2 separate regions of the Homo sapiens genome follow, and region 2 is linked to region 1. Evidence: fine-mapped expression QTL. Tissue or cell type: unexposed skin. Region 1 holds a variant in brackets; the other region holds the start of a gene. All regions are shown on one strand. Distances are between the middles of the regions.

The links. PIP is the estimated chance that this variant, and not a neighbour inherited with it, causes the effect.
Region 2: it holds the start of SUFU, and the variant in region 1 is fine-mapped to the expression of SUFU in unexposed skin (GTEx, PIP 0.96).

What each region holds. Positions count from the first base shown.
Region 1 is chr10:102,642,850-102,650,849 of GRCh38, reverse strand. TRIM8 (tripartite motif containing 8) reads right to left here and starts at 6,371. Exons shown (of 6, transcript NM_030912.3): 1 at 5,663-6,371. The coding sequence starts at 6,232. TRIM8-DT (TRIM8 divergent transcript) reads left to right here and starts at 7,661. Exons shown (of 1, transcript NR_186489.1): 1 at 7,661-8,000. It overlaps LOC105378460 (a long non-coding RNA gene), which reads left to right. Exons shown (of 3, transcript XR_007062272.1): 3 at 1-694. RefSeq lists enhancers at 1,494-1,553, 1,654-1,703, 1,944-1,993, 2,004-2,063, 1,321-2,288 and 4 more and silencers at 4,720-4,936, 6,222-7,201, 7,282-7,381, 7,652-7,711. The variant C/T (reference allele first, on the strand shown) is at 4,757.
Region 2 is chr10:102,499,327-102,507,459 of GRCh38, reverse strand. It overlaps SUFU (SUFU negative regulator of hedgehog signaling), which reads right to left and starts at 3,488. Exons shown (of 12, transcript NM_016169.4): 1 at 3,126-3,488. The coding sequence starts at 3,307. ACTR1A (actin related protein 1A) reads left to right here and starts at 4,748. Exons shown (of 11, transcript NM_005736.4): 1 at 4,748-4,860. The coding sequence starts at 4,813. RefSeq lists enhancers at 1,801-2,301, 4,770-4,869, 6,264-6,764 and silencers at 2,594-2,888, 3,203-3,672, 4,350-4,419.

The DNA of each region.
Region 1 (8,000 bases):
CAGAGGAAGCAAGGCCCAGACCCCCCACCACCAGCAGCCTCCTTTCCATCCCAACCCCCACCTGCCTCCCCAGGGAATGGCTAAGAGCCAAGGCCCCACTTCCCACCTGGGAAAAACCCATAGCTGAGATCCGACCAGATTTCCCAGCTCAGTTCAGAGCAAGTACTCTCTGCGCAGGCAGGTGGGCTGGAGGCACCTTACACATGCCACCGCCCCATCCCCCCACAGCAGTGCATGGCCTGGACTGCGTACACTGGAGCATGCAGGAGCAGAGCAGAGTGGAACGTGGCCTGGGCTAGAAGCTCTGGAGGCCCCAGGCCACCAGGGAGACTGGGACTAGGTGGGGCCCAGGGAGGACCTTCACACCCCCAGCCCTGCCTGTCGGGCCTCAGGCCTTTGGTGATCTGCCCGGGGCCTATGAGGACAAAAGCATGAAGAATCAGGAGCCGCCATTCCCACCCTCCACCACCTGGGCCCCCACTCCTCAGCTTTGCCGCTGCTTCCTCTGACTCCCCTCCCGGCCTGGAGCAGCGAACCCTGAGCCCCTACATTCCTGCCCCAGGAAAGCCTCATGTCCCTCTGGAGACTGACTGGCCAGGCCAGCTGCCATTTTTGATGCCAGACTAGACTGGGCAGACGGGTGAGGCTTGGGGACTCTGGGCTGTATAAAAGTTAATAAATAATAATAATAAAACCCTCAAGTCAACCTTGAAGAGAAACAAGGTCAGGAGGAAACAGGGCCCCAGGGACTGGGACAGAGGCAGTCCCTAGGTTTTCAGACAAGACCATGGCTAGCTCCAGAAGCCCCTGTGGTGGTGGGAGGGGCAAGAAGAGGGGGCTGGGCAGCCTCTTCCTGCTTAGGTCCCTGCCCGGCCAGCTCCAGTTCTGGCTCCAGCCCCCTTCTCAGAGCCACCCCATCCTAACCCTCCCCTACTCCTCCCCCTGGTCCCTGTCCCCATCTCTCCCTGGGTCTCTGCGCTCATAGCACTCTCCCCTTTCCTCAGAAAAGCTTCTGCCTGCCCTAAACCCCCTTTCCATGCCTCAAGCCACTGCCTTGGGCTATCATGTGAACTGAACCCCAGGCTGGGGAAACCACAAGCTGCAGAGGGAAGGGGCTCCAGGGCAGGCGCCAGGGCAAGGAGAGAGGCAGCACCTCAGATGCGAGCCCGGCAGACCCCAGAGAGGGCTTCCCAGCTGCAGAGTGGAATTAGCTTTTGCCATGCAGAGAGCAGCGCTCTGGGGCAGCAGAACAAAGAGGCGAGAGAGAAAGCCCCCCTTTGTCTGGCTTTGAATGCCAGGCCAGCCGGGAAAGGAAGGCTTTCCCAGAGCCAGGGAGGAGGCCAGCCAGGCCAGCCTGCTCGGCCCGGGGCAGGGGCCCAAGCCGGGCTTGCTCCGCCTCGCCAGACTGCACCCAACACAACAGCGCAGGACCCTTTCAGCTCCTGCCTCCAATACCCGCCACAGGCTCACCCCAAGGGGAAGCCCATCTTTCCCTCCTTTCCCCAACAACCCCACCACAGGGGGAAGTCCCAGGACCCCTGACAAACTCACAGCCACCAAGCAAGGATCACCTGAGCGGGCACTCACACAGCAGCACAGTAGTGCTGCCAACTGTCAGGAAGGCACACTCAACTTCAACTCGCAGGCGCTCAGCAAGCCCGGCAGGCAGACACGGCTGCGCAACTAGGGACTGAAGTCAGGCAGGCTGCGCCTTCTCAGAGACACCCATGTGAGATGCAAAAAGATCAGTCACATCCAAGATACACGACCCAGACGTGCTGGCTACACATGCACGCACACACACACACACACACACCTGCAGACAGACACAGATGTGCAGCCACCCAGGGCCGCAGAAGGCAGAGTAATAATAGTGTGTGCATGACAGGTGCCTGGCCATGTCAGCAGGATCCTGGGGTAGGGGTGGGCAGCTGGGCCTCTGCCTGAGGCTCCCTTTCACGGGCAACGGAGAAAGCCAAGCCAGGGCCTCCTTCCACGAAGACTCGGGGGTGGCCAAAGAAGGGGCCACATGACCGTCACACCACAAACACACGTGCGTGCACACAAACACACACACCCCTGCAGGAGTATGGTCTGCTGTAGGGAGAGGGAGCAGTGAGGTTTGCACTGCTGGAGTCAGGCTGCAGCCCCAGCCTCAGCACCAGCCCCAGTAGAGCCAGCCCTCACTCTCACTGCGTACTCAGAGACAGATAAATGGAGAGGAAACCCAGGATTCCCTCCAGGGTCTCAGGGTGACCCCTCCAGCCACCGGCAATGTGCACAGGATACCCTCACTCCAAGCAGGGGCAAACCCCACACTGGCCCAAGCAGTGGGATCTCCTCCCCCAGAGAACCTCTTCTTGACTCTGAACCTCTGAAAATGCAAGGAACAGGGCCCTAGCAACATGTCTGGCCTTGCTCTGGGACACCAGGGACGATGCAGAAACACAACCGTAACTGCACAAGACTCAAGCAGATACACCTGCATAGACACATACGCACCACATACCTGCAGGCCCCTCACACATGCAACCGGGCCTGCTCTTGGGTCTTCTTTCCATGTCATGGGGGGTCATGAGATAAGGATGCCCCCCAGCTCCCACCAGTCCTTCAATGCTTAGATGAACCCCTGAACCTGGGGGCTAGGAGGGGTCTGACCACTCAGGACTGCCAGGCCTGAGCCCACCTGGATGTCCAAATCTTGGGCCCTTAGCTTCCCCACAGCCTCATGGGAGAGCACATTTAGGATCTAGGCACATCCTAGACAATGGTCTCGGGATCATCCAGTGAGTATCCAGGCCTCGGCAATGTGGCCGACACACTGGCTTCCCAAGGGAAGATTAGGGCAACAACCTGCTTGGGCCTGATTCTGAGAGTCCCCCTTGTAGTTCCCCAGGATGGATGGAGGACCTGTTTGCTCTCCTGCTGGGTCCCTGCTCTAGGCTATGGCCCATGTGCACCTGTGGATGCTGTAAGTATATGAGGGTGAGGCCACCAGGGAGGGGTTAATCAGAGTTTCCTATTTCTAGCCAGTTGACAGGCATGTCAGCAATCCCCCTGGGAGGGCAGAAGAGGACGCACAAGAAGCAGAGCCTAGATTTTAAGGCAGGTGCCAGGTCTCTGTGCTTCTGCCCCTGTATCCTGGGGAATTCTGTGGCCCTCGCCCACAACACCAGCAAAGGCCCTTTAAGGCAGACTCCCTCCGGGAAGAGAAAAGGGGCCAAGGAAGAGCGCTCCACCCACTCCCCCTGTTTGGCCTACAGAGAGTGCAGAGGGTTCTTCCATTTAGGTTCCTATGGTTCACCCCCTCCTCTCCCTCCTGGGAGGGCAGGCAGGGCCCCTATTCCTCCACATTCAATAAGTCAAACTCATACTTGAGTGACACTGGGCTACTGAAGGGTTTCCAACCCCAGTGGCCTGGGGCACCAGAAAGAATCAGGGGCCTGGGGAGGGGGAACCTGGAGAAGGATGAGGCTCAGGCTGCCACTGCAGGGCACAGCTGCTGAACGCACAGAATTGCACATCTGGCCCTGATGCAACCCACTACTTCTGAGCCTGCCCACACCAGGCACAAGAAAGCACGCGCATGCACGCGCACGCACACACACGCACACACGCACACACACACCCTGCGGAGTTGCCGACAAAGTTCAGTGCCTGCTTCCATCCAATCCACGAGTCTGGAAATGAGGGGCCTGCTGGGGGGCACCCCAGGGAATACTCTGCATGCACATGCCACCCACCCACCCCTGCCTGTGCCCTGAACTGTAGAGACAGGAGACAGGTGCATTGGAGGGCGAAGCACACAGTCTCAAAGACATTCAAAAACACAGACACCTAAAGCTATCCTCCTACACCAAGTCAGGTATAATGACGTTTTCTCCCCCACCCCAATTAAAGACATCCCTAGAACTCAGACCAGCTACAGCAGCACTGTGGGTGCGGGCAGGCATCCGCCCATCGCCCAGGTTGCTGCCCCTCCCCTGTTCCTTTCAGCCACATCTCCTTTCCCCTCCTCTCATTTTCCACTGCCAATCCCAGGACAGAACTGGACAGCCCTCCTTTCTCCTGCCTCTGCACTTTTCCCGGCCTCCTCCCCCAGCCCTTCCATCTTTATTAATAGCAGCAGCTTCCCAATACTGGGGAAAGTGTGGGCTGTGCCTGCCCTGAACGGGGATGGAGGACACAGGGGGTGGAGGACACACTTCCTTTAAGAAACCAGAGGCCTATCCTGGCACACAAACCCAGGGCTAGTCCATCCGATTGGAAACTAATTATACAGCAAATCGTATTTGCTGCCCCCGCCCCAGCCTGTGGTGGCCCTCCTGCCTTTTGTTGGTTGTATGTGTATGTTTTTTAATTGCTAAACAGTGACTCATTCTGACTGGTCCCCCCACACAGGAAACAGCCCCATCTCCAATCATGCCCTGAACAGAGCTTCCTCATAGCCAGCCTCCGCACTGGCCTCCACTAACCTCCAGGGATCCCCACCCAGAGACACTCCCAGTCCCACCAGAGTGCAGCCTAGCCCCCAGATATCACACCCAGGCCCCAGGCCCCAAGGTGGGGCTTCAGAGAGGACTCCTCGGTGTCAGGCCAACCCCTTCATTTTGGTATGACTCAACCCTGAAAGCCAGAGGACTGGGGAGGGACCTAGGAGGAGCCCCCTCCACTGAAGGGGACGGAAGTATTGCCTCAGTCCAGCTCCAAAACCAGGCCCAGAGGCCTGAGGGGGGAGGCGGTTTGACATTGGCCG[C/T]GGCCGCAGGGTGTATACAATGGGAGGGGACGCGGTTCCGTAATCACCCAGCCGGCAGCCCAGGGGAGCCAGCTGCCTGAAACCAGATTTCAAGGCGGCTCAACCTTAAACCCACAGGATTCTTTTTCCGTCTTCCACTTCCCCTCCCCAAATGTGGGAGGGCGGCGAGAGGGCTGTGCTAGGCGAAAGGGCCAGGATGATGAAGACAGATACTTGAAGGCTTGTTCATGCGGCCCGTGCGACACACAGGCACACAGGGCAGCGATTCTCACACAGGGAGAGCCGGCTCTCGGGAGGAATCCAAATAGCGGAGCCGCTGTCGGGGCCTCGCTGGCTGCCCAGGCCCTGTCCAGAGAGACGGCCGGAGTTCTGCTCTCCCTCTGGAAACTCCCCCCACTCCCCCCCCAGTGTGTTTCCAATAGCGCTGAAAACTAACATGGCTGCTTTTGTTTACTTCCTCATTGGTATGCCAGCATCATGGATCATGTCAGCCACAGCAGCGGCACCGGGACACTCATTACATAAACAGCAGCTGGAGAGGCAGGACCGGGGTCACTGCCTCGGTGACTTCCCGTAGGGCCTACAGCAACAAGACTGGGGGAGGGAGCTGCGCACCACAGAAAAGCAACACCCAGACTCTACCCCTGACGGTCCCACACCCCAATCCCATAAAGCACTCAGAAGACGGACCCTGTGCGCACAGGTGCGAGAATGTACCAAGTAGCGACCCGGGGCCCTTCTTCCCAGGACCCTGTCCCCAAACTTTCAGAGAAGAGTTTGGCCAGGGGCCACTGGCCTGATGTCACAAGAGTCAGCCTGTCGGGATGGGTGGTCCCGGGGCGGGAGAGAGGAAGGGACTGTGTGTCTGTGTGTGTGTGTGTGCGCGCGCGCGCGTAGGGTACTTGCCCGGATTTCATTCCTTCGGATCTCCACGTCGCACACCGAGTGTCCCTGATGCGCGCCGCTGTAGTAGCAGCAGTACTGGCACACGGCCACCTGCTCGGCCTCGCAGTGGTAGAGGCGGTAGGCGTTGTGCTGCGGGCAGCTCCAGGCCCGCACGTCGTCCGCCTCCACCAGGAGGTGCCCGCGGGCGGTGGAGGGCTGCTGCAGGTGCGTCTGCACGTGGGACTGGCAGCAGGGCGCCTCGCAGCGCAGGCAGACCTTCTGCGCGGGCAGCGGGGGGCCGCGGCGGCAGAACACGCAGTGCAGCGCCGCCGGCGGCTTCTCCACGTGCAGGGCATTGAACTTCTCCACGATGTTGGTGAGCTTCAGGTTCTTCTCCAGGCCCGGCTTCTGGTTGTAGGCCTGGTTGCACTCTGGGCAGCGTACGAGGCCGCTGTCCTTGGCCCACGCCTCGCCGATGCAGCCCCGGCAGAAGTTGTGTTTGCACGGCAGCTGCACTGGCTCCACGAAAACGTGCAGGCAGATAGGGCAGATGAGCTCCTCCTCGAAGCAGTTCTTCCAATTCTCCGCCATGGCGGCCGCGGGCAGGGGGCCGGGGCAGGCCTCCCCGACTCCCCAGCCCCGGGGGTCCGTCCGGAGCCGCTGTAGGCCCACCGAGCCCCGAGCTCCGGCCCCAGCCGGCCCCGACGGTCGCTCAGTCAGCAGCGCCTTCCGCGTGCCCGCCCCCCGGAGGAGGGAGCCGCGGTCCTCACGCCGCGCGCGCAGCGGGCTGCGTCTCCTCCTCCTCCCGAGCGCCTAGCGGGAGGCGGCGGACTGCGCCAGGGCCGCGGCCGGGACTCCAGCCTTGGAGGGGAGCGCCGGGGTCCAAATTCCATATAAGAGGCCGCCTCCCCGTCGGCGCGGCTAGGGCAGTGGCGGCCCGCGGCCTGCGCTCGTCCCCGCGGCTGACATTGGGGCGCGCCCCGCGGCAGACGGAGCTTGGGAGCAGCACACTTCTTCCGGCGGCGGCGGCAGCGGCGGCTCCTGCCTGGCTCGTCGGCGCCGCACCTCCCTCGCAGGGGCCGGAGCCCGGGGTCTGCGGGGCCAGGAGGCGAGGGCGGCCGCGCCGAGGGCTGCTAGATCCGGACGGGGCGGGAGGGGCAGGCCGGCGGTCCCCGGGCCACGGTGCAGGCGTCCCCCGGCTGGCTGGCCGGGCGCGGGCTGCGGGGCGCGGGCGGGCCGACTCCGGGGCGCTGCGTGCGCGCAGGGGCAGTCATTCAGATGAAATTCCAGTCCCCGGCCAGAGACACCAGCCCGCCTCTGCCTTCCTCCTCCCTTCACAAATAGAAACGGAAGGGGGAGGGAGAGAAGTGGAAAAAAAGGCAACCGGCGAGGGAGGGAGGGAGAAGCCCCGGCGGCGCTCCGGCCTGACCCCCGGGCGGCTACTTCTGCGCTCCCCCGAGGCCCGGCGCCCCCGCCGCGGAGAGACCCCGCGCGCCCGTCTCCGCGCTGGGCGGGCGCCCGGGCTCTGCCGAGGAAAACAAGGATTGATCAAACTAGAAAGGAATTTTTCTCAACTGCTAATGAACAGGAGGCTCGGCTCCCGGCCCTCCCCTCCCCTCCCCCGGCCCTCCCCCTTCGCCCCCCCGGCCCCCTCCTCCCCACTTTCTTTTCTTCTCGGCCTCTGCTGGGGCCTGGAAGGCTCGGGGCTGCGGTCGGAGCCAGCCTGCGGCGGCGGGGCCAGGCCGAGCCGCCACCCTCAGCGCCCAGCCATCTTGGGCTCCGCGGCGGCGGCCGGGGTCTGGGCGCGCTCGCTGAGGGCCCCGCGGCGTCCTCTCGCTCCTGATTCTTTTTTTTTTTTTTTTGGTGGGATTTTTTTTTTTCCAAGGGGAGGGCTGGCGGCCTCCAACAAATTAGGAGAGAGAGAGGGAGAAAATGCCAAGTCCCGATTTCTCTCCACCTCTGCTCCACCCACCCCGGTCCTGTCCAAAAAATAAAAGAAGATGAGAATTGGAAGAAGTCGGCAGAAAGGCGAGAGCCCGCGGTCCCCGGCTGCTGCCCAGGCGACGCGTCCGGGGCGGGCCCGCACCCGTTGCTCGGTCCGAGGTCCGTCTGTCTGCCCGCGGCTTCTCAAGGGAGGGGAGGGCGCTTCGGGCAGGGTCTCCGCAGCCGCTGTCGCCTCAGAGCTTTATCCTCAGATCAAAAAAGAAAAAACAGGAAGAAAAAAATCCCAACCCCAACACTCTCATCACAGCCACCTTCAGCCATCTTGCGCGTATTATTATTTCAGGAATAATCTGTTTAATAAAAATACCTGCGTATCCAGCCCCTCCCCCGCGTCCTGGGGTCCCCGCCCCCTTTT
Region 2 (8,133 bases), 140 kb after region 1:
TTTGTGGGGCAAGGGAAGAAAGAAAAGAGTAGAGATCCCTGGAAAGACCCCATTAGAGCTACAGAACTCCAGAGCAGATGAGAGCCACTACAGGCCCCATACCTGCTCCAGTTTCCTGCTGCAAATTTCCAAACCTGCCCCGCTACAGCCTAGGTCCATCCTGCACCAAGCTGCAAAACTGTGTTTACCATTCTCTGCTCCATCTGCAGCATCCCTGCAGCCCTCTTTCTCACCAAGTCTCCCACAAGGTGTCACATCAAGGAGAGAAGCTTAACCTTCAAACTCCAACTGCAAGGAACTACCAAGAGTCAGATAAAATTAACCCTGTCCCCAAGCACAGAGTATTCTGTTTACTTACTACTCAGAGGCCAGATGAGTATGTGGAAAAAAATCGCATTTTACACTTAGCAAATGATGTTATCCAAGGTCCCAGGGCATCCCTCAACTTAATTCCTTGAACACCCAACTTCTCTCTGCAGGGCAGTTGCAGGACTGAAGTGGGCCATGAGTACAGGTTCTGCCTCTCTGCTTTGATCCTTGCTCACCAAAGTCTCAGCTTTCAGTTAGAATGTCCCCACTACTCAGGGATCACCAGTCACAGAGCCACACTGCTATTGCAAAATGAATCCCAAGCTACCCTGGGCCACAGACAGACCCAGACAGCCTGGGTCAGTCATCCTGCTAGAAACCTCGTGGGATCCCAAATGTGAGGAATATAAATGAATTTCAGGATCTTATTTTTGCAAACCCCTCCACATCTTAGAAAGTACCAGTCACTGATGGCTGGTCGCACTGGCTCACGCCTGTAATCCTAGCACTTTGGGAGGCCGAGGTGGGTTGATCACTTGAGGTCAGGAGTTCGAGACCAGCCTGGCCAACATGGTGAAACTCTGCCTCTACTAAAAATACAAAAATTAGCTGGGCAAGGTGGCGTGTGCCTGTAATATCAGCTACTTGGGAGGCTGAGGCACGAGAATCGCTTGAAACCGGGAGACAGAGGTTGCAGTAAGCCAAGATCGTGCCACTGCACTCCAGCCTGGGTGACAGAGCAAAACTCTGTCTCAAAAAAAAAAGAAAGTACCAGTCACTGTGCTGTTTCTCTTTATACTTTTCTGCATCTAGGAAGGGCTTTCACAAAGTGCTGTATAATCCCTTTTCTTCATTATCACATGTTGGCCCATCTCTGAAGATATGGCTGTTAACAAGCTTGCAGCAGGAAGGAAAAAAAAATTGCCCTTAGTCCTTTGCACATGCTTTCATACCTTTTACATACAATTCTATCCTTTATGGCTACTTGGGTGACATAAAAATAGTTGCCTGAATCTGTGTAGGGATTTCTCCTCACACTCAAATGAGGCCTGAACAAACAGCGTGGCAGAGCCAGGCCCACTTCTTTTTTTTTTTTTTTTTTTTTTTTTTTCAAATAACAGAGTTAGGGTCTGGCTACGCTCCCCACACTGGTCTCGAACTCCTGGCCTCAAGGGATCCTCAAGGCCTCCCAAAGTGGTGGGAATACATGCATGAGCCACTGTGCCCAGCCCAGGCCCACTTTTCTCCTGACACATGACAACAAGTTCATCACAACACATAGTTAAATATAAAGGCACAATGAGAATGGGTCATTAAGCTAGCAAGAGCTGCTTTCCACTCAGAAGCGCTCTTCAACAACTCCTCTCAACCAGAGAACAGTTCGCCAGTGAGAGAGGACTGCGACACCAGTTCCACCTCCTCCCGTCTACTCTGACAGAGGAGGCTGTTCCCTACAATCCTCCCTAGACAGCAGGTGGCTGGTCCCCAGGCTCTCCACGCTGTTGGCCTCTTGGCATCCTCCCATTGATGCGGGCAGCTGGCCTCAGCCCTGCACAGCCTACTGACACCGATGTCCAGGGGAAGCAACAGGTTTTCACCAGGAGGAAGACTCAGTCCTAAAAGGAGAGGTAACCAGCAAAGATGTCCACTTGCCCCTTCAGGTCTACCCTTTGGCTACACCCCCAAGCAGCTGCAGAACAGTCTTTCAAGACTCATTGAAGATCATCTTACACAATGCCTGCATGAATGTGGTCCTGGACAGTTTCAACCAATATCTCAGTTTTTGGTCCAGCAAGACTTTGAGGACAGGTTCTTTTCCAGAGTCCCCAGAACATCTGTTCTGCCCAAATGCTGAAGGAAGAAACAGGCTGCAAACAGGAATGGGAAATTAGAAAAGACCATTCCTACCCTAAAGCTACTTGAGGGTTACTCTCAGCTCCCCGGAGAAACTGCAGGCCATGGCCGAGAAGCTCCTCTTAATGTCCCACTGCACAATTCCTCCCTGCTGGGGTCCCAGAGTCTCCACCATTTATTTCCAACTGGAGGTGGGAAGCTGTCGGCCCCTTCAATCCTAAGCCAAACCATGGTTCTCTCTACCTAATGCCCTAAAGCGAAGCAACTGCAGAGCTAGGAGGAAGCTCTGCACGGAGAAAGAGAACAGTGCAGAGTAAGCAAAAAGTTTATCAGGAAGAGCTGCTCCGTCAAACTTCAAAAGCAAAAGCTTTGCCCTGATACGACGTCTGAGCTAATCGGGAAGGTATCAAAAGGAGACCTCCTCCTCTCTCCACAAGCACCAGGCCCTCATCTTTGGCCCTCCTACCCACCACAGGAGAGCCCTGGGCCCCCCGAACCCCCCATTCTATGCAGTCTCGTGCCCTCTGAGCTTCTTCGGCTTCGCTCCTCCAAAGCCCTCTCAAATGCTCCCCAGGCCCCGCCTCGCCTCTCCCATCCCACTTCGGCCGCCCCCGCTTGGCTTCCCCTCGCCCACTAATGACCCCCTACAGGCGCCCCCTCTTTTCACCACGTTTACAGTTCCCTCGCTCCTGCCGTTCCCCCCTCTGCTCCTACACACACCCCCAGTCCTCACTCTATTCTCCTAATCCCGGTTAACCCCTCAGTACCCACGGGCTCCGTTAACCCCTTTGTCCCCATTCCCAACTTGAGCCTTAACTCCTTCCCTCGCAGCAAGAAGCCCTCCTTCTGAGTGCTTTAACCATTCTCTACCCCTCCTCCCACCTCCCACAAATTACTTCGCCCTCGGCGCTTTAACCCTTTCCAGCCCGCGCCTGTCCGTCTCCCCGCGGCCCAGAGCATACCAGTACTTGACGATAGCGGTAACCTGGAGCGGGTTCGGCTGGTCAGGGTAAAGGCGGCGGCACTCTCCGTAGATGGCGTGCAGTCCCGGGGGAAAGAGCGAAGCGAAGGCCGGGGGGGCAGTCGGGCCAGGGGCCGGGGGCGCGGTGGGGCCGGGGGCGCCGCTAGGCCGCAGCTCCGCCATCGGGGTGCGTAGGGCAGGCACTGGGGGAACTGGAGAGGGCAAACGACGGGGAGAGCACTGACGGGCCAGCGGGCGGACTCGGTGGGTGAGACTCCCCGAGGCGATGGGGGCTGCAGCGAGGTCTAGCTCCGCGCCTGCGCACGGCGCACTGTCCGCCCAGGCTGTCGCCGCCGCCGAGTCTGCCAGAGGGTGCCTCGGGGCGGCGGGGCGCTAAGGGGGGCGGGGCGCCGGCGCACCCTATCCAAGCACCCATTGGCTAATGTCTGTGCCAGTCACAGGCAGGGAAGGTGTGACTTGACAATAGGCCCCGCCTCCCCTCCCTGTGTTGGGAGTGTCCCAAGGCTCTTGGTCTCCCCCTAGTGTTAGGAGGAACCCAAGTTTAGAGATGCTGAGCACCCTCTGAGGTGCTAAGGTCCCACGAAAGCAGCGAGAAGTGCGCCAACAAAGGATTTGTTACTGTTTTGCTGACGCGCTGCTAACTAGGATTTAAACATAAATCTGACAATGGATTGATTCATTCATCCATGGGGCGTTAGTATTAATAGATGATAATAAATCTAATGTTTTCTAGGGCTATTGACAAAAAGGTCCCTGAAATTTCAAGGGGGCTGGGGGAGAACATAATCCAGAGAAAAAAATGCACTGGGCTCATTTGAAAGCAGTGACACATAACCTCTCTTCACCTCCATTTTCTCAACCATCAGTGTCAATTCTAGCTCGTTATGAAAATTAAAGAGATACTCGAGCAGTTTCTGAAACCCTTAGATGATGTTTTAATGACCAAAAGATTACCTATACCAGTAGTTCCAATTGCCAATCTTCGGATCAATGTTAGCCTGTTATGCAGAAAAAAAGAAAATGCAAAAGGCAACGACAATGTACAGGTTTTTAAACTTAAAGCTAATTTTATGCAATTTAAATTGTTTTCCTTTGTTGTAGGAATATGTCCTCTCGCGTACGTGTGTTAACATTTCCTTTTTGTTAGAGTGTGAGGTGCTAGGAGATGTTTATTAAAGTCTTACAGACCCAAATAAAAACATGAGAACCTTATATTGTCTAAGGGAACGTCGGGGGGAGTGGCAGGGCTGATCTGCAAAATCCAAACATCCATGAATTACGACCAATCCAAACCGAACTACAGACAAGTACTCGAGAAGACTACATACCTCAGCATGCACTGCGAACTCCTTCAAAGGGACTACAGATCCAGGCATGCAACATGACCATCAACCTGTGTCTCTGGCTGTTTAATCTAGGGAGACCACAAATCCCAGGGTACTGCGCATTGGAAATGCGACTCCCAATCTTAAACTAGGCGGGCAACAAAGCAAGCTAGATCGCTAACCCAGGCGCAAAGCTTGCTGGGGATTGTAGTTCTTCAGAGGCGAGGTCGGGCCGCTCCCTCGCCGCCCTGAACCGGCGGCTAGACTGCGCATGCGTGTCAGTGGCGCTAGCGGCGGACCCGGCTGGGCAGTTCCTTCCCCAGAAGGAGAGATTCCTCTGCCATGGAGTCCTACGATGTGATCGCCAACCAGCCTGTCGTGATCGACAACGTGAGTTGCGTCTTTCCTATCTATAAGGGGACTTGGGCTCTCCTCCTCGAAAGGATCGCTTCCCGGGGTTCAGCCTGAGCCGCCGGCTCTTTGTCACTGGCCCGGCCTGTCAGGCGCGTTCAGCCACCGCCGCCTCCTTCCTCCCCTTATCACATAGTCCGCAGGCAAGGCGGCCAGCCAGCAAAAGTGGGATGGAGAACTCTGGAGTGGATAAAGGAAAGAGTTATAGTCCAAGCCAGTCCTTGGGCCCTTGGCTCTAGGGGCCTTAACCGCTGTGTGAGATTCCCGTCGCCCGCCCTCTCCCCCATTTCCGATCGCTCTATTGGTTGCTCTGGCTGTCCATCTTAGCCAATGATACCGCCTCTTAGCCTTGCCGGATGAGGCTAGGCCTCTGCGGTGATTGGCTCACGCCCCTGCCATTCTTCCTTGCCGCCATATTGTTTTCCCTCTTGAAGGGGCGGGGCAGTGCTCCAGGGCTGTGGGGATTGGCTTCCGGGACTCTGGGTGGTGGGGCCTAGAGGCGAGTGCCCGCCCGCGGGTGGAGAACGGCTAAGTTTTCCTTCGGTCTCAGCCGGCGCTGCGGCTTGGTGGTGTGGATCTGGGTGGGGCCCGAGAATCTGGTGCCAGAAACCGCTGTAGGATGTCAGCTATTACTGTGATTATAAATTACAAAGTTGGTAAAGGTCGAGAAGAAAGGAGAGTGACAAAGGAAGCAGAGAGGTTGTCCTCCTCTTTGGAACGCCTAGTTCTTACGGGGAAAAAATTACCAAACTTAATATTTGCCTGGCGCTCTAGCGCTTCCAGGGCGTTTTCACATACATTCGAGTTGGATCCTCACAAAAACTGGACGCATAGTTTAAAAGGAACTTTGATCTTCGTGTTACCGATGAGAAAACTGAAGCGCGAAGACGTAACGTGAGCCCAAGGTCACATAGCAGAGGTGCCCTAAATCCAGTACTTTATCCGTCATCCCTTTTGCCAGCACCACCATGCAGAAGCATCAATATTGACCAATAGAAAGAATCTAAATACTGCTCTTATTTTGGGGGGAAAGGAGAAAATTGTAAAACGACTGCATTTCTGCCTTCGATTCAAAGCTTTGGTCCCACAGAGATTGATCCCTGTCTGTGTCCCTTGTAGGTCCCTCCATTGAGGCAAAACTACCAGTTCCCTCTGTTGTAAGCTGACTCTGTCAGATTCCCTTTGTTGATTCAGCTCTTGGGACCTTAGGCATATTACAATGTTCTCGTTTAAGCTTCAGCTCTGTTAGGTAGATAGGAATTACTATCCCCAGTGTATGCAGGGATGTTAAATAACAGATTTCAAACCATCCAGTTTAGGAATTGAGGAGCCAGTCATCAGACTAAGATCCAGTTCCAAGTTGCTTGCTTTTTCCAATATATTTTTGTTGTTGTTTTCATTAAATTTTCCTTCTCTCCATGGGTATTTTGTTTTTATTATTCCCCCTTAGAAAGGGGCAGGATTGAGCTCAATGAGACAGCTCATTTTTTTTTTCTTTTTTTTTTTTGGAGACAGGGTCTCGCTCTGTTGCTGAGTCTGAAATGCAGTGGCGCGATCACAGCTCACTGCAGCCTCAACCTCCTGGGCTCAAGTGATCCTCCCGCTTAAGCCTCCCGAGTAGCTGGGGCTGCAGGCACGCGCCACCACCCCTGGCTAATTTTTGTATTTTTTGTAGGAAGGGTTTCACCATGTTGTCCAGGCTGGTCTCAAACTCCTGGGCTGTTGCGATTCTCCTACCTTGGCCTCCCAAAGTGCTGGGATTATAGGCCTGAGCCACCGTGCCTGGCAGAGACGCCTCTTTTTTTGGTGTGGGGGGGTGGAGGGAACAGGATCTCGCTTTGTCACCCAGGCTGGAGTGCAATTGTGCGATCTCAGCTCACTGCAGCCTCCGCCTCCAGGTTCAAGAGATTCTCCAGCCTAGACTCCCAAGTAGCTGGGATTACAGATGTGCACCACCACGCCTGGCTAATTTTTGTTTGTTTGTTTGTTTGTTTGTTTGTTTGTTTGTTTTTGAGACGGAGTCTCACTGTCGCCCAGGCTGGAGTGCAGTGGCGCGATCTCGGCTCACTGCAAGCTCCGCCTCCCGGGTTCACGCCATTCTCCTGCCTCAGCCTCCCGAGTAGCTGGGACTACAGGCGCCCGTCACCTCGCCCGGCTAATTTTTTGTATTTTTAGTAGAGATGGGGTTTCACCGTGTTAGCCAGGATGGTCTCGATCTCCTGACCTCGTGATCCGCCCACCTCGGCCTCCCAAAGTGCTGGTATTACAGGCGTCAGCCACCGCGCCCGGCCTAATTTTTGTATTTTTAGTAGAGATGGGGTTTCACCATATTGGCCAGACTTGTCCTGAACTCCTGACCTCAAATGATCCACCCGCCTTGGCCTCCCAAAGTGCTGGGATTACAAGCATGAGCCACCACACCCAGCCCAGATACTTCATTTTTGAGAGGATCTTTTTGTCTCCCTCACTAGACTATTAAATCCTTGTGGAAAAAGATGATATTCTCCCACAGGTTTAGTGGTGTTGGGAAAAAAAATTTAAGAAAGATGATATTCCTTTAGTCTCACTTCACCCACTTCTCTCCACACACACACAGTATACCTAGGGTCTGGCACCTCTGTGTGCTCAATAAATGTTTTTTCATTGGATTGATGGGTGATTGGATGAATGACTGAATATCTCTATCAAAGTAACAAAGATATTCCTAAATAAAGAAAAGATGGGGAGTTTTCTCTAGTTAGTTACTGCAGATAATTGAGTAGGACTTTTTGTTCTTGATGTTGATTTTCAGAGAGCACTACGATTTCTGTCTTTAGCCAGGCTCTTTGTGCTTCTTCTGCCTTTTTCTTAGTTGTAAAAAGGAAAAATATATAGAAATTCAATTTCCTGTTTTCATCAGCAATGCAGAAGGAACAACCTGTCTATCCCACCAGCTCCTTTGCTTCTTGAATTGCTAGGCAGGAGTTCCATCTCCGGCCATTTTCTTTAATATCACTTACACTAATGCGTCTTAATTTTTTTCTTTCTCTTTCCTGGTAGTATGTTTCGAAATGCATTACAGCAGTGATGCATTTTTAGTTTCAAGATTTAAAGAATTGACTTGTCTTTTTTTTCCCCCTCTGGGAAAACATGTCCTTTATTATGCCAGTATTTCTGCCAAAAGGTGAAGTAGGAGAAACTTAAGTCATTTTCCTATTAGTATTTGCTGAAAATCTGCCACATTTTTACATGTGCGGTCTCAGGTAGTCCTTG